Linked DNA regions of Homo sapiens. The protein of the gene in region 1 purifies or fractionates together with the protein of each later gene. This does not show direct contact. Each region holds a gene or a part of one and is shown on either strand. Other genes may lie near its edges.

What was found.
Region 2: the proteins of CLNS1A (region 1) and VRK1 purify together in Homo sapiens (affinity purification with mass spectrometry; one large-scale study listed by BioGRID and IntAct). This does not show direct contact.
Region 3: the proteins of CLNS1A (region 1) and CDYL purify together in Homo sapiens (affinity purification with mass spectrometry; one large-scale study listed by BioGRID and IntAct). This does not show direct contact.
Region 4: the proteins of CLNS1A (region 1) and SEC24A fractionate together in Homo sapiens (co-fractionation; one large-scale study listed by BioGRID). This does not show direct contact.
Region 5: the proteins of CLNS1A (region 1) and CTPS1 fractionate together in Homo sapiens (co-fractionation; one large-scale study listed by BioGRID). This does not show direct contact.
Region 6: the proteins of CLNS1A (region 1) and EPB41L1 purify together in Homo sapiens (affinity purification with mass spectrometry; 2 studies listed by BioGRID and IntAct, with this or other methods). This does not show direct contact.
Region 7: the proteins of CLNS1A (region 1) and LRRC47 purify together in Homo sapiens (affinity purification with mass spectrometry; one large-scale study listed by BioGRID and IntAct). This does not show direct contact.

Annotation. Positions count from the first base shown.
Region 1 is NC_000011.10:77,620,795-77,624,294, reverse strand, and holds part of CLNS1A (methylosome subunit pICln), read left to right. Parts: intron 1-1,621; coding exon 1,622-1,795; intron 1,796-3,500. UniProt on the Homo sapiens protein: Involved in both the assembly of spliceosomal snRNPs and the methylation of Sm proteins.
Region 2 is NC_000014.9:96,877,382-96,879,745, forward strand, and holds part of VRK1 (serine/threonine-protein kinase VRK1), read left to right. Parts: intron 1-120; coding exon of another isoform or gene 121-192; intron 193-2,364. UniProt on the Homo sapiens protein: Serine/threonine kinase involved in the regulation of key cellular processes including the cell cycle, nuclear condensation, transcription regulation, and DNA damage response.
Region 3 is NC_000006.12:4,947,404-4,950,903, forward strand, and holds part of CDYL (chromodomain Y-like protein), read left to right. Parts: intron 1-3,500.
Region 4 is NC_000005.10:134,651,785-134,655,284, forward strand, and holds part of SEC24A (protein transport protein Sec24A), read left to right. Parts: intron 1-3,500. UniProt on the Homo sapiens protein: Component of the coat protein complex II (COPII) which promotes the formation of transport vesicles from the endoplasmic reticulum (ER).
Region 5 is NC_000001.11:41,007,196-41,010,695, forward strand, and holds part of CTPS1 (CTP synthase 1), read left to right. Parts: intron 1-253; coding exon 254-350; intron 351-1,463; coding exon 1,464-1,519; exon of another isoform or gene 1,520-1,598; coding exon 1,599-1,695; exon of another isoform or gene 1,696-1,700; intron 1,701-2,249; coding exon 2,250-2,394; intron 2,395-2,965; coding exon 2,966-3,050; 3' UTR 3,051-3,059; exon of another isoform or gene 3,060-3,063; intron 3,064-3,500. UniProt on the Homo sapiens protein: This enzyme is involved in the de novo synthesis of CTP, a precursor of DNA, RNA and phospholipids. Catalyzes the ATP-dependent amination of UTP to CTP with either L-glutamine or ammonia as a source of nitrogen.
Region 6 is NC_000020.11:36,206,740-36,210,239, forward strand, and holds part of EPB41L1 (band 4.1-like protein 1), read left to right. Parts: coding exon of another isoform or gene 1-1,041; intron 1,042-1,561; coding exon of another isoform or gene 1,562-1,669; intron 1,670-2,748; coding exon 2,749-3,159; intron 3,160-3,500. UniProt on the Homo sapiens protein: May function to confer stability and plasticity to neuronal membrane via multiple interactions, including the spectrin-actin-based cytoskeleton, integral membrane channels and membrane-associated guanylate kinases.
Region 7 is NC_000001.11:3,789,999-3,793,498, reverse strand, and holds part of LRRC47 (leucine-rich repeat-containing protein 47), read left to right. Parts: intron 1-3,500.

The DNA.
Region 1 (3,500 bases):
ATATTGTTTTATTATTACTATTATTATTTTGCAACAGGGTCTCACTCTGATGCCCAGGCTGGTGTGCAGTGGTGTGATTTCTGCTCACTGCAACCTCTGCCTGCTGGACTCAAATGATTCTCCCAGCTCAGCCTCTTGAGTACCTGGGACTACAGGCTTGCGCCACCATGCCTGGCTAATTTTTGTGTATTTTTTATAAAGACTGGGCTTTGCCATATTGCCCAAGCTGGTCTCCAACTCCTGGGCCCAAGCAATCCTCTGGCCTTGGCCTCCCAGAATGCTGGGTTACAGGCATGAGCCACCGGGCCTGGCCTGCATCTTTATTTAACATGTTCCTTCAAACAGCTCACTGCCAAGGTCATTTCTTTTTCTCAGAACCATACTTCATTTATTTAAGAGCCCTTTCCGATTGCCTCCCCCAGACCAGAATGCAGTCACTAGCGTGATAAGAGTCTTTATAGCTTGAAGTACCTGCTGTTCTCTTTTCTTTTCCCTACTGGTCTTATGTACACCAATCTGGGTATCCAAAGCCCTTTCCTTCATATGTACCCACTTCCTGGCCTGAGATAAACACATTTCTGGGATCCGCCATCACATACCTAAATATATCCAAATATATCCTTATCTTTCTGAGATTTTTGAGTGATTTAAAATTTTTCATCCTTTTTGTATGTTCCAGAATTTCTAATTTTTTTTTTTTTTTTAAACAGGGTCTAACTCTGTTGCCCAGGCTGGAATACAGTGGTACCATTCTCCACCCACTGCAGCCTTGAACTACTGGACCAAAGCTGTCCCACCCCAGTCTCCCGATTAGCTGAGACTACAGGTGCACACCACGTGCCCGGCTAATTAAAAAAAACATTTTTTTGGAGAGATGAAGTCTTACTATGTTGTCCAGGCTGATCTTGAACTCCTGGGCTCAAGCAGTCCTCCCAGCTCGGCCTCTCAAAGTGCTGGGATTACAAACGTCAGCCACTGCACCTGGCCCTGATTTTTTTTAAGAAAGGAGCATGTTTTTTAATCAGAAAACATCTTCATTTTACAAATTAATACCAAATTAATTTGTGCTCACTTGTAAAATTCCCACCTCAGGATAATGTAGGACTCTCTGACCTTAGGAACACACTTTTTTTTTCTAGTCCCTGGACTTGGGATTCTTTGGGAATTGCTGTTTACTGGCTTGTTATCTCTTTTAATAACCCTAGAGAGTAGGTACATCTTCTTTGTATTTCTGTCTTCAGCAGTAGCCTATATGTGTGTATAAATAAATGTTCAAAAGTATCTTCCTGGAAGCCTATTTGGACAGTATATTATCTTCAGCAGATTCTTTTTTTTTTTTTTTTTTCCAAGACAAGGTCTTGCTCGGTTGCCCAGGCTGGAGTACAATGGCGTGATCTCGGTTCACTGCAACCTCCACCTCTGTGGTTCAAGCGATTCTCCTGCCTCAGCCTCCTGAGTAGCTGGGACAACAGGCGCGTGCCACCACGCCTGGCTAATTTTTGTATTTTTAGTAGAGATAGGGTTTCACCATGTTGGCCAGGCTGGCGGCAGATATATTATTGATTCCATTTTGTTTTTTCTAATTGTTGTATTTAAACTTTAAAGTTTTCTGTTTGTTTAGAACAAGGACAGGGGGACATCCCTACATTTTACACCTATGAAGAAGGATTATCCCATCTAACAGCAGAAGGCCAAGCCACACTGGAGAGATTAGAAGGAATGCTTTCTCAGTCTGTGAGCAGCCAGTATAATATGGCTGGGGTCAGGACAGAAGATTCAATAAGAGATTATGAAGGTGAGTGTCCTTTTGCAGTGTGAACAGTCAGATGAGCACTTGGGCAATAAGTTATGGATAGTCAATAGAAGTTCTTTTAATAACTAAGAGAAAGAATTGACTCTCTATAGTATAGGAAGCAGATACAGAATTACATAGTATAGGAATGCTTATGTCATTTGTTTTTAGTGATTTTTTTTCCTCATTACCAAAAAAGTCTTTGTTCATAGTCAAAAAAATTTTTTTAATGTGCGCAAGAAAGTAGAAGTGAAAAAGAAACAAGTGTAATTCTAACTGAGAGATATCCACTATTAATTTACTGTTGCATCTGTGTATTAGTTTGCTAGGGCTATTATAACAAAGTGTCATACAGGCTGGGTGGCTCAAACAATAGAATTTTATTGTCTCATAGTTTTGGAGGCTAGAAGTCCACGATAGGTTATCTCTGAGGGCTGTCAATTCAGGCATCTCTTCAGGTATACACACACCCACCAAAGCAAGAGAGAGATTTTAAGAAATTGGCCCACGTGACTGAAGGCTGGCAAGTCCAAAATCTGCATGGTAAGCCGGCAGACTGGAGACCCAGAGAAGAGTTTATGTTGCATTCTGCTGCCTCAGAAGTTCTGCTGGCAGAATTTCTTCTTGCTCAGGGGAGGTGAGTCTTTTTCCTATTGAGGCCTCCAGCTGATTAAATGAGACCCACCACACTATGCAGGGTAATCTCCTTCACCCAATTTTCACCAGTTTACAAGGCTAATCTCATCTAAAAAATAACCTCCACAGAAACATCTAGAATAATGTTTGACCAACTATCTGGACACCATTGCCTAGCCAAGTTGATGCATAAATTTAACTATCACACCCTTCTTTTTTTCTTAAGATGGAGTTTCGCTCTTGTTGCCGAGGCTGGAGTGCAATGGCACGATCTTGGCTCACTACAACCTCCGCCTCCTGGGTTCAAGCGATTCTCCTGCCTCAGCCTCCTGAATAGCTGGGGTACTGGCGCCTGCCACCGCTCCCAGCTAATTTTTGTATTTTTAGTAGAGACAAGGTTCCACCATGTTGGCTTAAAGTATGCACAGGCAAAGAAGAGGTAGAAAAAAATAAATATAATTCTGAGATGCATTTACTATTAATTTTCTGTTGCATATCCTTTCAGTCTTGTGTCCTTTTGTGTGTGTATATACACTGATTGTGTGTGTGTGTGTGTGTGTGTGTGTGTGTGTTTGAGACAGAGTCTTGCTCTGTCGTCCAGGCCGGAGTACAATAACGTGACCTCGGCTTACTGCAACCTCTGCCTCCCAGGTTCAAGTGATTCTCCCACCTCAGCCTCCTGAGTAGCAGGGATTACCCACTACTATCGTGCCCAGCTAATTTTTGTATTTTTGTAGAGACGGGGTTTCACCATGTTGGCCAGGCTGGTCTCGAACTCCTGACCTCAGGTGATCCGCCCGCCTCAGCCTCCCAAAGTATTGGGATTACAGGCGTGAGCCACTGCACCCGGCCATGATTCTGTCTTATTTATTTATTTATTTATTTAAGACGGAGTCTCACTCTGTTGCCCAGGCTGGAGTGCAGTGGCATGATCTTGGCTTACTTCAACCTCCACCTCCTGGGTTTAAGAGATTCTTCTGCCTCAGCCTCCTGAGTAGTTGGGATTACAGGCATGTGCCACCATGCCTGGCTAATTTTTGTATTTTTAGTAGAGGCGGGGTTTCACCATGTT
Region 2 (2,364 bases), on another chromosome or scaffold:
TATAACTTCACACTGAAGGCGAGAGGTTTTGAAGTAGTCCCTCTCTTTTTCCCGCTGCTGTCTTCCTTTCGCTACTGTCTTTTTTCCTCCTTTCCCCTGTCTTGTTCATTTTGTTATTAGGAAGTGAGGAGTCCCAAGGAGCAATACATCGAAGCATGTCTCAGCCAGAGGCTAGCAGCAGCAGCTATGACAGTGAGTGGGAACAAAATTAAGGAGTATTTATAAATATACAGCAATATTCTTAAAAAACAATCCCTTAAATTTTAAAACTGGCAATTTTAGTTTCAGAAAGATCCTGCATTGTTCTAGTGAGATTGACACTCATTAAGTCTAAGGCAGAGTCTCAGCTGCGCATCAGGAAGACTCATCCCTTTCTTGACTGCCTGGACATCATTTGTTACCTGAACTTTGCTTAATGAGCATCAAGCGTTTTTGTTTTGATAGATAAATGCCTTTAAATTCTAGTATAATTATGAATTTTTTTTTAACCTAAGTTTTTAGTTTAAGGTCTTCTACTGATGCTTTTTCCCATGAGAAAATATATCAGTATTTTTGTTATTTTATTAATGACAAAAGAGTATAGTAAAGTCATAAATAATTTAAGGAGAACAATTCAGTTTTTTTGACCTAACTTTTTCAGAAGATAAAGAATAGTCAGATTCACCCTTATTCATATAAACTCAAAATTGCCGTTCTTAAAATGCTGTTTATTTCCCCCATTACAGTTCACTTTTTTCCCCTAAAGTACAATGCGAGTTAAGGTATTTTACTATCAAAATAATCATAAGTGAGAGAAATATTATCTGATGGTAAAATATTATTGCTTCCAGCAAAAAGAAAAAGCCAAGAGTTCATGTAAATGTATATTTTTAAATTTATCAGTTTAAAAGTTACTTGAAGGAAAAGACACATTATTACATTTGTTTTTTTAATTTTTAAGATATATAGTACAATTCAGTGAACACTGTGTTTTAGGGCTTTAAGATTTTGTGTCATAAACGTGTTTCAAGAATGGTTACCTCTAACAGCAGCTTTAGAAATGTCAGTTTCTTCATTAACAATTTTATTTTCAAACACAATTTATGATTTACAGTATGGTAAGAGATTTTTCGCACTGTGTGATCTTTCAGAATGCTGTGCCTAGCAAAATGGGAGCAACTTTCCTTTAATATCTATTTAGACCATTTTAAAAATGTGTATAATTTTCTAGATACACCTAAACTCATTTTGAATAGTTGGGGGTCTATTGTGTAAGAACACATTCTGAAAGCTTTCAAAATGTGTATTGTGTAGGTTTTCTCAAATAAATAGAGGAGGTGATGGGATGGTTTTCAAGAAGAACAGAGGCCTCTAATCCTTTTATTTTTATGCAAGGCATAATTTTTACCAGTTGAGAAAATTTGGTTACTGGCTGCAAGTAATTTTTCCCCTCACAAAATGAGGAGCCTTTAAAAATCATGCATATTTTGGCATTTCAAAATCATGCCAGTATTTCAGAATTGTGCTAAAAATTAGCTAATATAGCCATGATATTTATGGCTGGTGTACTTTCCCCCCTCCTGTTCATAAAATGGAGGCTACTTTTGTTGGTATTATTTTTAAGAACCTTGGATTTTGGACCATTCCTGAGGAATCTTTGGAGAAAGCATGACTAGTCAAAAAGTAGATATTTTTAAGGGAACCCTACAAAGAAATTTCCTACTTTTTTTTTCCTACTGCATTATAAAATCATAGAAAAGCATCCCAAACTTGTATGTTATTTTCCAAATATCAAATTATATACATTAGTCTTCTGATTGGACCCTTTGCCAGTAGTGTATATTATGAAAATGGTTATATATTTAATTAAAGAGATAAGGTAGTTTTTTTTGTAACAATCAGAATTGATTATTAGGGAAAATATTGAATTGATTTATGCAGCAAAGTCAACAAGGTGCGTAGGACTGATTATATAATAAATTCCAGGCAGTAGTAGCCCTTTTAGTTGCAGTGAGAAACTTTGGATTGAAGGAGATGAGCAGCAGTGATATTTAATTTCAGAGTAAAATGGCAAATTAAGACATTAATGAGAATAATGCTATTTGAATGTAACTTTATAGTTGTTAATTTAGTGTTCTTTGTAGTGTGGTTAAAGATTTAAAATGTGTTGAAAGGGAGATATAGTATTGATTATTGACCTTGATTTTGTAATACCCTTTATGCCAGTCTCACTATCGCAGCATTTTCAGTTTTCTGTGCAGAATTAATTTCAAATTTCTTGAAATAGGCCGGGCGCAGTGGCTCATGCTTGTAATGCCAGCAGTTTGGGAGGCTGAGGCGGGTGGATCATTTGAGGTCAGGAGTTCGACACCAGCCTGACCAACA
Region 3 (3,500 bases), on another chromosome or scaffold:
CTGATTAACCTGGGTGGAGCTTGTCCACTCTTGCTGACAAGTCCAGGGGCTAAGGCCAAGTCTCAGCCCTCTCTGCCTCTTGCTCCCGGCTGCCCCTCTGCTTGCACCCATGTCCCTGCCCCTCACCTGTGAGAGTGTTAGCACGTGGACGGCTGCCTGTGCCAGGTACTGTGGCTTCTCCACCTGGCCTGTTGGGGGGTGGTCCCTCATTGCCAGCTGGGGAGCCGTGCAGTTTCTAAACCTCTCTCTTCACCCTCGGTCTGTCCACTCCCCTCGTCACAAGGTGGTTTCTCTGGAAGCTAAGATAGATTTGGGAAGCAGGGTCTGGTAGATTAGGTGCCAGCGTCCATGGAAGGGCAGAAAGGAAGCAGGATTGGGCAGAGCTGACTGACAGGGAGCTCTGGAACCACGTGGCCTCACGGCGGTTCCCGGTGCCCCACTGCAGTTGGCCGTGGGGTTGGCGGCCCTGGGAAGAGCGGTCCATGGGGGAGGCCCTGAGCTCTCTGTTGCCTGCTGACAGCACTTCCCACAGCAGGCAGTTTGCTGGGGTGGGGACGTGGGTGGCTTATCCAAGTCATTTGCTTTGTCCTTTACACCGTACTGCACGCACCTGACACCACCAGACTCCCATGGTAGAGTCATTATCAGTAAAATCAGTTCATCGTAGTGATTACTGTAAACGAGACTGTGTCCTGCCAGTTAACCCTGTCCCGGCAGGAAAGAATCCTCATCCTCTGGAACATCCCGTGAATCTCATTTTGAGTTATTTATCCAAAGGAGGTTGAGATCTGAGGTTCTGACCCCTCCCACTGTATGATCTATGTAGATGTGTGGTGTCGGTGCAGATGTGGGGCAAATACTAAACCACCTTGATGTTCAGACACATTTTGGCCAAAGACATTTTGGAAGTGGAGCCCTGGAGCTGAATGCTGCTCAGGGGTAGAGGTGTCAGAGTTCACCATTCCCAGAAAGGGCCATGAGGCTTGAAGTCATCACAGGACGAATGCCTGCCCTCTGGTCAGCCGTGTTTCTCCCTACTCTACAAGCCTTGGCAGATCTTTACTTTACGCTTCCCCTGGAGATGTACTGGTGCCTCTTGAGCTGCTGCTTTCAACTGGGCAGTTTTCACCCCCGACCTCACCCCTGGGGAACAATGTCTGGAGACAACTTGGTTGTCACACATGAGGAGATGGCCGTTAGCAGAGGCTGGGGTACTGCTCGGCACCCTCCATAGCCCACGGGACAGCCCTGCTTAGCACCCTGCATGTAGCCCCCACAGGACAGCCCCCACACCAAACAACAGTCCAGCCCAGAATGTCCCTAGTGTCCAGGGGGAGAAACCCTGCTCTAACTCAAGAGCGAAGAGCCTGCATTTCACTCGGCGTGAATTCTACACTTTCTGAGCAGAGTATCTGACGAAGCCTCTCTACAGAAAGTGAATAAACGTTGTTCAGATGACTTCGACAACTCTTGTTGAAAGTGACTATGCAGATGATGTAAATGATGTCGTTCCTTTCATGAGCCTTTGGTGTACTTGAGCTTTCAGCAGCCTGAGGCAAGACTGGACAAGTGTGGTTTTCCCCACTTTGCATGTGCAGAGCTCTGCCAGGAGGATAAGCTAAAGGAATCACATTATCAAGATAAAAAGAATATGCAAATAGTGCAGGCTGTGTGGCCTCTCCTTTCTTACAGCAGGCCCTCCGCTGTAGGCGAGGGCTACGTAAATCAGCCAAGGAGTCTCTTCCAGTTTAGCCTTCCTGGTGCCCAGTAGACATTCATGGAGTGCATGGAGGATGGCACGGTCTGACGCCCACAGGCTCCCACGTGGAAATCTTGCACCTCTCAGGGGCCTGCTGGGGTGTGAAGCTGGAGAATGCCCAGCGAGTACCTGAGGGCCTTACCCCACGCTCACACCTTGAGAGCCCTCTCTTGGGGACTTCAGAGACTGGCCTGAGGGAGCAGGTGGTAAAACCTCTGCCACAGCAGTCCCCATAAGGCTGAAGATTCCTGGATCCCCTCTGCTCATACTGGGCCAGTTTCCTCGCCACCCGTCCTGCTGTACTCTGGCCAAACTAAAAAGACATCTCTATTTAACTTTCCTCGGCATTTCCCATCTCTCTGGATGGTTCCAGGATAACTTTCTTTTAATAGTTGGACAACTTTGACCACATCATGGGGTGATGTAGGTTGTCTACAGGGAGTCCCTGTGCACTCAGCCATCTCAGAGCAACGTGCTAGCTGGTCAGGTTCCCACCGCCTGCATCTGTGTGAATCGGTTATTTGGGTAGAAGTTTGAAACCTCTCATTTTGAAACTACTGAAAATAGTGTGTTTATATAAGAATATGCTCACGCAAATTGCGTGTATTTAATCCTATAATACATATCTTACCAAGGGAGATTTGTTGTTGTTGTTTTCTTGGGTGACTGTCGTTCAAACCAACTCACTGGCCGTGTTTAAGTGAAAAAGCTTTAACAACCTAGCGTGAGCCCTGTCATTTTTGCTCTTGAGTAAATTGAGAAATGCCCTTGCTTGTCCTGCACATCCAACCACCTGGAATGGAGAACACCGAAGGTAGGGAAAGGATCTCCAGGGATGAGCAGGCCTGGAGCCGGCGGGGCTGTGGAGGAAGACCGGCCGCAATGAGTGAGTGCTGAGCAGAGAGAAGGGCCGTTCTCGGCTGGTATCAGGCCCAAGAGAGTCAACAAAGGGGGGACGAAAGGGAGACAGGGAAGAGAACAGTGGTGGGGCTGTAAGTTGACCTCCAGGTGGCAGAAAATAAAGTTGGAAGAATTGACTGGGACAGACAGCCAGGGCCCTGCAGGAAGGGCGGGAGAGGAAGCCTGCGGACACCTGCCCTTTGTGATTGAACCGCAGACACCAGGCCTGGCGGGGTCGCTTGCCTCCGCTGCCCAAGCTAAGGCTCCACTAAGCTGGTCCTGAGAACATACTTCATGCTCAACTTCAGGGATGTGGCTGTAGTGTCCTCACTCTATGCTGAGAATGAAAGAAGCACAGTCTATGAAAGGAAAACCCCGACAGCACAGAGCACTTCGTGCGGCAGCAGCACACCGGGAGTCCCACTCCCTTTCCTGCTGCGTTTGGATCTGCCGTGACAAGGACTATCAGAACCACTCACAGTAAGGTCGGGTCGCGTTTCTAAATCCACTGTTTATGGACCGTCTTTTCACTGAGAAGAAGCTCGTCAGTTCAGGGGTTTCTAGAACTTCTCCAGACTCTTCAAAAACTCATGACTTTCTCCAAGTTGGTAATCCCAGCACTTTGGGAGGCCCAGGCGGGCGGATCACGAGGTCAGGAGATCGAGACCATCCTGGCTAACACAGTGAAACCCCGTCTCTACCAAAAAATACAAAAAAAAATTAGCCGGGCGTGGTGGCGGGCGCCTGTAGTCCCAGCTACTCACGAGGCTGAGGCAGGAGAATGGTGTGAGCCTGGGAGGCGGAGCTTGCAGTGAGCCGATATTGCACCACTGCACTCCAG
Region 4 (3,500 bases), on another chromosome or scaffold:
CTGCTAATAATACAGAGAGTAGGGATATGGTATCAAGTTGGAGAACAGGATATTTTTCAAGAAGGTGAGAAAACGTTTCAATGCTGGGATCTAGTTTTGCTTAACTATTCCAAAGCAGTAGTTGATGCTTGCATATTCTGTTGAAAACTCTTTTTTTTTTTTTTTTTGATGGAGTTTCACTTTTGTTGCCCAGGCTAGAGTGCAATGGCTCATTGCAACCTCTGCCTCCCAGATTCAAGCAATTCTCCTGCCTCAGCCTCCTGAGCAACTGGGATTACAGGTGCATGCCACCACACCCGGCTAATTTTTGTATTTTTAGTAGAGACAGGGTTTCATCACATTGGTCAGGCTGGTCTCAAACTCCTGACCTCAGGTGATCCGCCCGCGTCGGCCTCCCAAAGTGCTGGGATTACAGGCGTGAGCCACCGCGCCTGGCCGAAAAGTCTTAAGTATTTAATGAAGTTTGCTTAAATTACATATTACAGTATAATTAGATCTTCAGTTTGCTTTTGTTTTTTGTTTTTGAGATAGTCTTTCTCTATTGCCCAGGCTGGAGTGCAGTGGCGTGATCTTGGCTCACTGCAACCTCCATCTCCTGGGTTCAAGCAATTCTGCCTCAGCCTCCTGAGCAACTGGGACTACAGGCATGCGCCACTATGTCTAGCTAATTTTTGTATATTTAGTAGAGACGGGGTTTCGCCACGTTGCCCAGGCTGGTCTCGAACTCCCGAGCTCAGGTGATCCGCCCACCTCGGCCTACTAAAGTGCCGGGATTACAGGCGTGAGCCACTGTGCCTGGCCAGTTTGGTGTTTTTTGTTTTTGAGACGGAGTCTTGCTGTGTTGCCAGGCTGGAGTGCAGTGGTGCGATCTCAGCTCACTGCAACCTCCACCTCCCAGGTTCAAGCGATTCTCCTGCCTCAGCTTCCCGAGTAGCTGGGGTTACAGGCACCTGTAGCACATGCCACCATGCCTGGCTGATTTTGTATTTTGTTTGTTTGTTTTGTTTTGTTTTTGTTTTTGTTTTTTTGAGACGGAGTCTCACTCTGTCACCCATGCTGGAGTGCAGTGGTGCGATCTTGGCTCGCTGCAAGCTCCGCCTCCTGGGTTCATGCCATTCTCTTGCCTCAGCCTCCCGAGTAGCTGGGACAATAGGTGCCCGCCACCACACCCGGCTAATTTTTTGTATTTTTTTTTTTTTTTTAGTAGAGACAGCGTTTCACCATATTAGCTAGGATGGTCTCAATCTCCTGACCTCGTGATCTGCCCGCCTCTGCCTCCCAAAGTGCTGGGATTACAGTTATGAGCCACTGTGCTCGGCCTAATTTTTGTATTTTTAGTGGAGACGGGGTTTCACCATGTTGGCCAGGATGGCCTCTATCTGCTGACCTCATGATCCTCCTGCCTCAGCCTCCCAAAGTGCTGGCATTACAGGTGTGAGCCACCATACCCGTTCCAGTTTCGTTTGTTTGTTTGTTTTTTAAAGAGCCTGGGTCTTGCTCTGTCACCCAAGTTGAAGTGTAGTCACTTGATCATGGCTCACTGCAGCCTCGAACCTCCTGGCTGAAGTGATCCTCCCACGTCAGCCTCCTGTGAAGCTAGGACTACAGGCACATGCCCTGAAACCTGGCTAACTAAACAGTTTTTTTTAGAAAACAGAGCTGCACTCTGTTGCCCAGGATGGTCTTGAACTCCTGGACTCAAGTAATCCTCCTGCCTTGGCCTCCCAAAGAGCTAGGATTACAGGCATGAGCCACAACATCTAGCACAGATATTTTATATATTATAGTCAAAAGACCTCACCAGGTGTGGTGGCTCACACCTGTAATGTCAGCACTTTGGGAGGCCGAGGTGCTAGGATTGTTTTAGCCCAAGAATTCAAGACCACCCTCGGCAACATAGTGAGAACCTGTCTCTACAAAGAATTTTTAAAAAATAGGCATGGTGCGGGCCCAGTAGTCCCAGCTACTGGGGAGGCTGAGACAGGAAGATCACTTGACCCCAGGAGGTCAAGACTGCAGTGAGCTACAATTGCACAACTGCACTACAACCTGGGTGACATGGCAGTATCTTGTCTCAAAAATAAATAAATAGGCCGGGTGCAGTGGCTCACACCTGTAATCCCAGCACTTTGGGAGGCCAAGGCAGGAGGGCTGCTTGAGCCTAGGAGTTCAGACCAGGGTAGGCAACATAGGAAGACCCCATATCTATAAAAAAGTAAGAAAAATTAGTCCAGTGTAGTGGTGCCAGCCTGTGGTCCCAGCTACTCAGGAGGCTGAGGTAGGAGGATCACCTGTGTCCAGGAGGTTAAGGCTGCAATGAGCCATGATCATGCCACTACCCTCTAGCCTGGGCAACAGAGTGAGAACCTGTCACAAAAATAAATAAATTAATAAAAAACAAAAGACCTAACAGTAGCCTTTTTCAAAAAAAAAAAATATATATATATATTTTTTGAGACGGAGTCTCACGCTGTCACCCAGGCTGGAGTGCAGTGGTGCAGATCTTGGCTCACTGCAGCCTCTGCCTCCCGGGTTCAAGTGATTCTCCTGCCTCAGCCTCCCGAGTAGCTGGGACTACAGGCGTGCACCACCATGCTCAGCTAATTTTTGTATATTTAGTAGAGACGGGGTTTCACCATGTTGGACAGGGTGGTCTCAATTTCCTGACCTCGTGATCTGCCTGCCTTGGCCTCCCAAAGTGCTGGGATTACAGGCGTGAGCCACTGCGCCCAGCTGAGAGGTTTTTCTAAGTCTTTGTGTATACATATTTCCTTTGCAAAAATTGATAGCAGACTACAAGACCTTAAACTAATGGATCTTAATCTGATTATCATGTATTAACGCTAAAGGCAAATAATGACTCCCACCATTAATTAGTGCCTTTATTGACTGAATCAACTTGCAAAGCCAGTTAGAAACTGCAGTTTTGTTTTGTTTTGTTTTGGTTTTTCAGAAATGGTCTCACTTTGTCCCCCAGGCTAGAGTACAGTGGTGCAGTCTTGGCTCACTGCAGCCTTAACCTCCATGGTTCAAGCAATCCTCCTGCTTCAGCCCCTGAAGTAGCTGGGATTACAGGTGTGCGTCACCATGCTTGTCTAATTTTTTTGTGTCTTTAGTAGAGATGGGTTTCACCATTTGGCCAGGCTGGTCTCGAACTCCTGACCTCGTGATCCTCCCACCTTGGCCTCCCAAAGTGCTGGGATTACAGGTGTGAACCACTACGCCTGGCCCAGGCTTTCCTAAAGAAACGTACAGCTTTTTGGCCAGGCTGGTCTCAAAATCCTGACCTCAGGTGATCTGCCCGCCTGAGCCAAAGTGCTGAGATTACAGGTGTGAGCCACCGCACCCGGCCACATGAGATTTTTTACTAATGCAGATTCTGGGATCCTTTTGAATCCTATGAAATAGGATTTTACAAAGGTGGGACCTGGGATCTCAATTTGTACCATTATTATAGCAGGTTCCTCTGATTCTGAAGCTGCTGGTTGGGTGGGAAGCAC
Region 5 (3,500 bases), on another chromosome or scaffold:
GGACTAGCCTGAGGAGGGGCTGCTGTGGTCCTGTCTGCAGATCAGGAGGACAGGCTGAAGGACGGAGCCTCCACCCAACCGAGGTTACAAATGCCAACTGGGAGGCATTTTCTTCTGTGACAAAATGTCTCATAAGGAAAGCCTGGAGAATTAGAGCTTACTTACAAGCCTTTGCCACCCACTCAGCGAGGGAGGTTTCTCTCTAGCGGAAGCAGAGTTCTGTAGTTGGTGTCTGTTTTCTGAACATCTCCAGGTCGTAGACATGCCAGAACACAACCCAGGGCAGATGGGCGGAACCATGAGGCTGGGCAAGAGGAGAACCCTGTTCCAGACCAAGAACTCAGTCATGAGTAAGAGCTGCCTCACGCTGGCCCAGCCTTTGGCTCTGCGTGCCCAGGACGCGTGTCTTAGGGTGATGCTGTGGCTTCGAGGAGCAGGCTGGCTTTTTTTGGTTTCGTTCTTGCTTTTGAAGTTCATTCTTTCCTCTCTTATTCATACCCTTTTAGGATGCACTGTGATAGCCATAGAAGCAGTGTGGGTCTTAGAAAGGACACTGGCAGTGCAGTCAGACTCCTAGGCATGGGCGCCTCAACAGAATGAGGCAGTGAGGTTACATTCATCCTTATCGGTTACTTTCCTATTAAGACCAGCCATATCAATTGCTGATGTTTGGCAATTTTTGTCACACAAAGATGGCAATTTCATATGATTCAGCCTAAGTAGATTCTGTTCTAATAAAGTACTAATAGATGCTGAAGGTTTAGGGTAGTTTTCGGAGGAAAATAGTTAAGAAAATGACTATTACACAGATTTCCTTCTTGTCTACTGGGAAAATTCTGCCTTTACTGTATTAGCAGAGGCACCCTTGTGTCTGTCTGGGCGTTCTGTAGCAGCATAGCTGGAGTCACTTGAGTATCGGATCTTTCTCTTACCAACTCTGATGTTCTGTGGATTTGGGGATCTCGAGGCAACTGTGAAATGAGTCAGTAGAGCAGCCCGTTCGCAAATGTCCAGCTTGTTCACATGCAGCCACTGAGGGCTGATGACCTTTGATGACCATGATTGGAACTGAATGATCATCAGAGGTCATCTGTGCAGCTCTTAAAATGCCTCCCATCCTGCCACGTTCCCAGGGCCTTGCCGTTTCGTACATCCTGATTTGCTTTCCAAGGCAGTTTTCTAGCAGCAAAGTGCCCATACTTTGCAATCATGTGTTTGAGGGTGGTGGTGAGAGTCTTGTTTCTGTTACAGCTTTCTGTAGTGTTGTCAGAAAGAGTCAAAAGCCCAAGAATTAGTCTAAACTGTGTTGTTAAGAGCAGGTGACCTTAGCAGATTCATAGAAATAGCCCTCAAAAGACCTGGCTGTGTGGATGATGAAAAGTAAAGCAGGAAGGAGGATGTCTTTGTGAACGCATCATCCTGTGAGATAAAGTTCTTTACATACAGCCCGTTTGTTTTGCCAGGGAAACTCTATGGAGACGCAGACTACTTGGAAGAGAGGCACCGCCACCGATTTGAGGTGAGGATTCCAGCTTGCTGGTACTCTGGAAAGATAGTGAGCTGAGAGACCAGCAGAATTATTTTTCATGCCTCAACAGGTGAATCCAGTCTGGAAAAAGTGTTTGGAAGAACAAGGCTTGAAGTTTGTTGGCCAAGATGTTGAAGGAGAGAGAATGGAAATTGTGGAGTTAGAAGGTGATTATTCGGGCAGTTTTATTTAATGGAAAACTTAGTAAAGTTTTCTTGGCATATGGGAAAATATAAAAATGTTATCTTGTTGCTCCTGACCTAACAGAATTAGGAAGCAGCACTGTCTCATGAGGGAAGGGGTCTTGATAAACATGGGGTCTGGACTCTAGAAACTTCTTTCTGGTACATGGCCTTCCTCGGGGAGCCATTTAACTTCTGGCCGCAGTTTCTCCTTCTCCAAAATGCTTGGAGTTGGTACTAAAGCCACTTCAGCCCTCTCCTGAACCGCAAGACTCAGTCTACAGAAATCCTGGGAGCCAGGGTCTTGGGCGGGACCCTGGACAGGAGGCCTTCAGCCAGGAGGGGACAGCACAAACCGTGCTGAGAAAGGGTATCAGATCACTCATGCTTTGAGGTTCCCTTTATCTAGATTCAAATGAGAAAGTCATTTTCAAATTATTTTAGGGCCTATGGAAACAAACATTTAAGCAGATTTTGTTCTTTTACACTTTGTGCATAACCTTCACAATGAAGCTGTTTCTTTTGAATCTCTATTTCAGATCATCCCTTTTTTGTTGGGGTTCAGTACCACCCTGAGTTCCTGTCCAGGCCTATCAAGCCCTCCCCACCATACTTTGGCCTCCTCCTGGCCTCTGTGGGGCGGCTCTCACATTACCTCCAGAAAGGCTGCAGGCTCTCACCCAGGTAGGCGCACTCTTTGCTTCAGTAATCCATTAGTCTTCTCTAGTCCTTTAGGTGGTCGCTGATTCATTACAGCAACACGTCACAGTCAGTCATAAGAAAAAAAAGCCACAGGCGCCTGGGGTGAAAGTTTCCTCTCCTTTCCCGGAGCTTTCTCACGGTGTTTCCCTGGCATATTGGCCAGGTCCCCCTTTCTGCAGCATCTGAGCTCTGGTGGTGCTGACCAGATCACACTTGGCGTAGGACCCTCTGGTCCATGTTAAGGGGAACTAGTTTTTCCTGGGAAGTAAGCCACAATGGGTAGGTTTATGTCCCATTGCCACCTTTATCCAGAACCAGTACTCAGAGTTGGTGGTAGGGTGTGTGACTGAAGTATAAATGGAATGTATATCTTTTGTAGCTAGAAGAAGGAAATCTTTCTGCAGTTTCATGTTAAATATATTATGTAGCAAACAGTCTTTGTGATTCCTGCCATGTGCAGGCAAGTGTCCCTGTAGGAACCGTGGTTACAAAAACAGGGACGTAAAGTGAGTTTTTGGTGGGAGATGATGCGTAAACCATCTGAATTCTACAGGGACACCTATAGTGACAGGAGTGGAAGCAGCTCCCCTGACTCTGAAATCACCGAACTGAAGTTTCCATCAATAAATCATGACTGATCTTGTAGCGTAAGTGGTACTTTAAAGTTTTAGTTTTTAAAAACATGGTGATAACACACTGCGATTGCAAGAATATCATGGAAGTTTAGGGCTGAAAATTTTTATCTGCCAGGAATGAAAGTGGTGAGGTCTTGAATATAATCCAGAGGTTGAGAGAGAAAAGAAAGTAGTGAGGTCATTGTGGGTATCAAATGGGCAGCCCTTCCTCCAAGTTGCAGTGCACCTCCCAGTCCTGCCCTGGGGATGACAGCTTGGGGAGCATGGTCACTGGGCAGTTGTCTCAATACTGATTACTACATTCTGGTGCCAGTCTGACCAGTTCTGGGGCGGGGAAGGGGAGGGTCTGAATTCTTAGACCCTATTGTTTGATGTAGCTGTAAATTTTGGAGATCTTGAAGGAAGGGACAGATACAACAATGTGGCACTTGTCATTTCTGCAGAGCCTCAGGT
Region 6 (3,500 bases), on another chromosome or scaffold:
TGGGAAGATGCCCAGTGGGGAGTGGAAGGAGAGTTTCCCCACCTGACAGCCAGCGCAGCCCGAGAGGAAGGGACCCCCGTGAGTGGAGATTTGCTGGGAAAGGCTGAGGAAAGTCCCACAGAGGAACTGAAGAAGCACCCTCCTCACAGAGGACAGGGCGTGCATCCCGACCCCCAGGCCTGCGCCCTTCCTCGGGCCATCCCTCTGAATGTCAGGAAGCCAGTCAAACCAGACAGAGGCAACTTCCCACCCAAAGAGAGGGGAGTGGTTCCCACCCAGAAAGGAGGGGCTGAGCTGAAGGACCGCGAGGCTTCAGCATTTCTTCACATGGAGGTGATCATTCCCCTGCCAGCCTCCCCTGGTCATTCTGAGGACCTGGCAGCTCTGGAGGAAGCTTCTCCAAGCCCAACCTCCCATGGGTCAGGGGAGCCTTCGGAGCTCAGGGAGCCCTTTCTTAGACATGTCCATCTTTCGAAAGCCAGCCCAGAGCCCAAGGACCAAGTAGGGTTTGTGGTGTCCCCTGCCACAGGAGGTGAGCGCAGGCCTCCTCCCATCACCAGCAGAAAGCCCAGAGTAGTCCCTGAAGAAGCTGAGGGGCGCATACCTCTGGGGTTTGGGTTCCCTTCAGGGAAGCGAAGGGAGATGACCTCTTTCCAGGCTGGGGACCAAGAGGGCTCCCTAGAAGATATTAGCAAGACCTCAGTGGCCAACAAAATTCGGATATTTGAGACCCACGGAGCTGAAACTCGCCGAATGAGTGAGGGTGAAGCAAGGTCCCTTCCAAATGACGTATCTTCAGAGGCACCCGTGGGACAAGCAGAGCAGCAGCGGAGTACGCTCTCAGACCTGGGCTTCGCCCAACTCCAGCCCCCAGGGGACTTTGCCAGCCCCAAAGCCACACATTCCACAGTGATACCTCTGGCTACCAGACACTTCAGGGAGGACACTTCTGCATCCTACCAGGAAGCACACACGGAACTAGAGCCCGTGTCCCCCAATTCAGGCTGTGAAACCACGCTGGCAGAAGCTACTGGAACTGGGGTAACTGGCCGCGTGAGCCCCCGCCCCCACCGCTGCTCCCCGCCCATGGGGGCTGGCCGCATGCTCTGTAGTTTTTAGAAGCATGTTTCAGTGGCCCCTCGTCATTTCTGCAATCAGAGGCTGCTTATCCATCCCTGTGAGTTTTTTCCCTAAACGGGCCTGGGTGTAGCTCAGGCTGAATGATGGGCTTCTCTGCTTGGCCCATGTTAGCTTGGCCACAAAGACCCTCAGCTTTTGGTGTGACCTGGTGCCCAGAGGGTCACACAACCCCCATGGAGAAGGTGGCGCCACCACCAGCAAATGACACACCTGCTTTGCCTTGCCGCTCATACCCGCTGGGTTCCTGCCTACCTTGCTTGGCTTGTCCAGCGATCTTTCTTCATCCTTTCCCATCCCTGGTTCTCCCGCCTTGGGAAAGTTGACAGTCCAGAGGTTTCCATCCTTCACTTCTGGTTCCCTCTCAGTCCCAGTGCCAAGTTTCTTTCTGCCTCCTTAAGACTAACTGTCTTCTCTAATCCAGAACAAATCCGGAGATGCGGTCAGGGAAGAGAAGCGCTCCACCAACTTAGCAGCCAACACCCCTGGGAAGGGGGGGCGCCTGAGATTTGCCAGCCCCTCGGGCCCTCAGGTCTCTGCAGCCCCTCTGTGCCCTGATGACCCAGTCACCTTCACCCGGCCAGGATGCATCGCCGCCTTAGGTTCCCACCTGCTGTGGCAGCACCTCTCGTGCTGCTCAACTCTGGCTTGTCTGGAATGTCTCCCTCACACCTCTCAACCTTCCAGAAACTGGCTAAATGGAGGCTCGCTTAGCAAGTGAATGTCTAAGCCCACTGAATCCCTAGAACCAGAAGCCAAGTTCTTTACAAATCTTTCATGGGTATTAGGTTGGTCTTTAAAAAGAATGTTATGAACCAGCCAAAAATGTGTGTGTGGTGTTTAATCCCTGACAGGCCAGTTGAGAGGTATGTATGTCGGACAAGAGTTGCTGGTTCCCCGAGGCACTGCCTTGGCCCGCTGTTGTCAATTACACTGATGGGACCAGAGCCTCTACTCCCTGACTTGCCTGTGGTCCACTCATGGAGCCCAGGGTGGAGCTGGCGTAGCACTCAGCTCCCAAGAAGCTCGTGCCCAAAAGGCCTGACCCTGAATTGCTCTTCTCTCTAGTCGATGCTGACCCCTCCCCCGGAGACTCAGTGGAATTGACAAACATGTTGGCTTCCTCTTTTGTTCCTCAAAGTTCTTGGCTCCAACCTCTCTGCCTTCCCTTCCTGGGTCTCCCTGAATCCCTGGATCTCCCTCCTTAGTTTCTGTTTCTCAACGCCCACCTGCACGGATGGGCCTGGGGTCCGGGCTTCCATCCCTGCCTTTCGTGCAATGCTGCTTCCAATAAGCTCCCAGATCCAATACCCTTGGATGGAGCCTCCTGTCCAGGAGTCACTGGCAGGACGTTTGCTTTGTACTTGCTTTTGCCATCAGTGTGAGACCCTCAGAAAGGGGCATCTCCACTCTTGAGTCGTTTTTGTTTTTTTTATGCTTGTTATGATTTCAAGGAACCTTTCCTGGGGTGTTTTTCATTTCCTGGCCTGCTCTTCCATTCAGGATGTCGACACAGCCCCGAGATTTCTCCTGACATTCACCATCTTGATTTCTCTTTCTCTCTCTCTCCCCACCCCACATCCCCATTCTTTTGATTTTATCTGGCCATAGAGAGCAGGGCTGAGGGAGGGCTCCGAGGAGAAAGTCAAACCACCACGTCCCCGGGCCCCAGAGAGTGACACAGGCGATGAGGACCAGGACCAGGAGAGGGACACGGTGTTCCTGAAGGACAACCACCTGGCCATTGAGCGCAAGTGCTCCAGCATCACGGTCAGCTCTACGTCTAGCCTGGAGGCTGAGGTGGACTTCACGGTCATTGGTGACTACCATGGCAGCGCCTTCGAAGACTTCTCCCGCAGCCTGCCTGAGCTCGACCGGGACAAAAGCGACTCGGACACTGAGGGCCTGCTGTTCTCCCGGGATCTCAACAAGGGGGCCCCCAGCCAGGATGATGAGTCTGGGGGCATTGAGGACAGCCCGGATCGAGGGGCCTGCTCCACCCCGGATATGCCCCAGTTTGAGGTACAGTGGAGCTTCCTCAAGAGCCAGGCCCGCTGGGCACCGCATGCTCAGAGGGCCCTGGGCCACCCGTGAGAAGACCGAGCACCCAGCCTGCAGCCTGAAGCTCTGTCTCGTGTTGCATGACTGCCCCTCCGCAGAACAGCATGGTTCTGTGCTCGCATGTTTGCCATCTCGGTTTACCCCTAACACGCGCTCCTTGGTATTTTAACCCTGTGACCCCATCGCTTGCTGAAGTCGAGCGATGACAGGTAGTCTGGTCTTTCTTGACCCCATGCCCCCCCACCTGTGTTGCATGGCACCTGCAGAGAGCATGCGTCTGTGGACTCTTGGGGGCTCCTGCA
Region 7 (3,500 bases), on another chromosome or scaffold:
TACAAAGGCAGTTGAGTTTTACGGAAGGAGTATTATCATTTAAATTACAAATGTCTCCCAAAGTTAGCTTGGCCCAAGCCCAGGAATAATTAAAGGTAGTTTGAAGGGCCAGGCGCGGTGGCTCCTGCCTGTAATCCCAGCAGTTTGGGAGGCTGAGGCAGGCGGATCACCTGAGGTCGGGAGTTCTAAACCAGCCTGACCAACATGGAGAAACCCATCTCTAGCTGGGCATGGTGGCACATGCCTGTAATCCTAGCTACTCAGGAAGCCAAGGCAGGAGAATCGCTTAAACCCGGGAGGCGGAGGTTGCAATGAGCCAAGATGATACCATTGCACTCCAGCCTGGGCAACAAGAGCAAAACTCCATTTAAAAAAAAAAAAAGGTAGTTGGAAGGCCAAAGATGGGGATTGGTTAGATCAGATCTCTTTCACCACCATAATTTTCTCACTGTTACAGTTTTTGCAAAGGTGGTTTCATTGGCATTTCCTGGAAGAGGCGAGTTCACTGGCATTTTCCTTGGTCCTCAGGGCTGTAGGCATCCCTCTAGGACTAAGGTGTGATGTTGGATACAGCATGGTCTACTCCCACCTTCCCACCTGACAGATACTTTTGGTTTTCCAGAGTGTTGATGTACTAGGCATGTATCTTAACATTGTGCCTTACATCATGTAAGTGTCCAGTCAGTTGCAATATTTCTCTTCAAATTCATAGATGTCTTTCAGTATTCAAGTTCTTAAAAGTGTTGTGGGCCAGGCCCACGCTTGTTATCCCAGCACTTTAGGAGGCCAAGGCGGGCGAATCACGAGGTCAAGAGATCGAGACCATCCTGGCCAACATGGTGAAACCCCGTTTCTACTAAAAATACAAAAATTAGCTGGGTGTGGTGGTGCATGCCTGTAGTCCCAGCTACTCGGGAGGCCGAGGCAGGAGAATCGCTTGAACCCGGGAGGCAGAGGTTGCAGTGAACCGAGATTGCACCACTGCACTCCAGCCTGGGTGAGAAAGTGAGACTGCGTCTCAAAAAAAAAAAAAAGTGTGCGTCCAGCTCTCTGTAGCACCTGCCTGGTAAAGCATTCCTCTTTATGGTGCCCAAAACAATGTCATTCAAGTCAAAGAGTGTGTCTTGTTTTCTAAATCCCAAAAGAGGTGGCCAAGTTCCCTTTCCCCTGGGCCATTCTGTTCGTAAATTTTAGGCGTCCAGTGGCTCTCTATCAGGAGACCTGTTTCTTGGAGGGTCATGCAAGAGCTATTGGAATCCCTTGTTGCACTCAGATGTCCTTTTGGGTACCTTTCTGAGGAATGGCTACCAGAACTATGCCCAGCAATGTAGCTACGCACATTGGAATTTCGCACACAAAGGCAAATGCATTTGATGTCCTTCCTGGTGCTGTGGGGAGATGGGGAGTGTAGAAAACCAGAAAACTGAGCTCAGAAACAGAAGGCAGGCTGGGCACAGTGGTTCATGCCTGGCATCCCAGCCCTTCAGGAGGCTGAGGCGGGCGGATCACTTGAGCCCAGGAGTTTGAGACCAGCCTGGGCAACATGGTGAAAACCTGTCTCTATAAAAAATACAAAAATTAGCTGGGTGTGGTGGTGTGCACCTGTAGTCCCAGCTACTCAGGAGGCTGAGGTGGGGTGAACGCTTAAACCTGGGAGGTTGAGGCTGCAGTGAGCCATGATCACACCACTGCACTCCAGCCTGGGCAACAGAGCTAGACCCTGTCTTAAAGAAAGGAGAGAGAGGCCGGGTGCGGTGGCTCATGCCTATTATCCCAGCACTTTGGGAGGCTGAGGCGGGCGGATCACCTGAGGTTGGGAGTTGAAGACCAGCCTGACCAACATGGAGAAACCCCGTCTCTACTAAAAATACAAAATTAGCCGGGCGTGGTGGCGCATGCCTGTAATCCCAGCTACTCGGGAAGCTGAGGCAGGAGAATTGCTTGAACCTGGGAGGCGGAGGTTTCGGTGAGCCAAGATGGTGCTGTTGCACTCCAGTCTGGGCAATAAGAGTGAAACTTCGTCTCAAGAAAAAAGGAGAGAAAGAAGGGGGAGGAAAGGAAAAAAAACAGAAGGCACGGGCTCCAGCCCTGTCTCTCTGTGGCTGCGTGCCGTTGGGTCTTGAAGGCTCTTTGCTCCTCTGTAGGAAGACTGGGAGGGTAACGCAGTACACGAAGAGGGAAAGAGATGGGGGAGGTAGTGCTGGTCATTGTGGCTGCTTGACTCCGAAACCACGAGGCTTAAAGCAGCAGCGGCTCTGCGCTCTGGGCTGGCTCCGCCAGACAGTGGACAGTGAACAGTGGACAGTGCTGCAGCTCTTGCTGCTGGTCGCTCGCGTGGCTGTGCTCAGCTGGCGTGGGCTCAGGGCTGGGCTGCCGGGGTGGGTGGGCTTCTCCGTGTGTCGTCTCGGGGCCTCTCCCTCCCCTTCTTTCACAGGGCTCAGGGCTCCTCAGTACAAAAGCAGCAGCTGCCAGCCCTTCTTCAGGCATCAACCTGGAACATGCTTCCTGCCACTTTCCTGCGTTCCGTGGGTTAACTAAGTGCGAGCCCAGTTCCGGTTCTTTGGGAGGACTGGCTCTTTAGGGGCCGCCAAAATAACAGCACAGAGCTTCTGCCTGTCCTTTCCCTCCCCAGAGGGGCGAGACTGCAAATGGAAGCAGCTCGGCCTGGCTCCTAGTGCCCATCCCCACAGCCATTCCCCAGGGAGCACCCCCAAGCCTGGGCTGGGACCTGCAGTGCAAAGGCCCTGACCCTCTTTCCTCCCAGCCACTGGGGACGAGGCCTCTGCTGTCCTATGGCCTCAGCAGTAGCTCTGCCTGCGTGGGAGCCTGGCTTCCCCAGTGTCCTGGCCTCAGAGCCACGTGGCTTGCTGAGACCTGAGAGCACCCGGCCGGCCCTCCCTGGCTGCTTCCCGCTGCTGTGGCCCGTGGGGCTCAGCTGGCAGTGCTGTGGTGAGCCGAGGATGGGGGCACGTCACACCTCTCCTGACTGCATTGTAAGTGGCCATCACGCAGGCGTGTGGTGTCCGTGTGGGAATGAGGGATGGATGGGACAGATGTTACCTGAACAGCTGATGTGGGCAGGACGGTGCCTTAGTAAAGACATCCTTTCAGGCCCTGGGCCACTCCCCTCCCAAGGCCAAGCTGCACAGGGGAGTTCAGCCTCAATGTGAACCCTCCTGAAGCCAAAGGCTCTCCCCCAGCTTCCGAGTTTCTCAGTTGCTGCCGGAGGGAGTGGGGCTCACTCAGGGGCTGGCGCTCCTTATTGGGTTGGTTTATGTCAGCCTGTCACCACCATGAAGTTAGGATCCTTCCCCGGCAGCAGGTCCCCTGCAAAAGCCATGGGCCCGGAAGGCAGCCGGTATGCCAGGCCAGAGTCAGGACCCACGTTGCTGCCGTCAGCTTAGCCACTGCGAGGGTTGTGTTTCCTGCAGTAGAGTGTCAGCTCCGGGTGACAGGTGACGGCATTTCATCCCATCAGGTGTCAGGAGGACCCCTAGCCA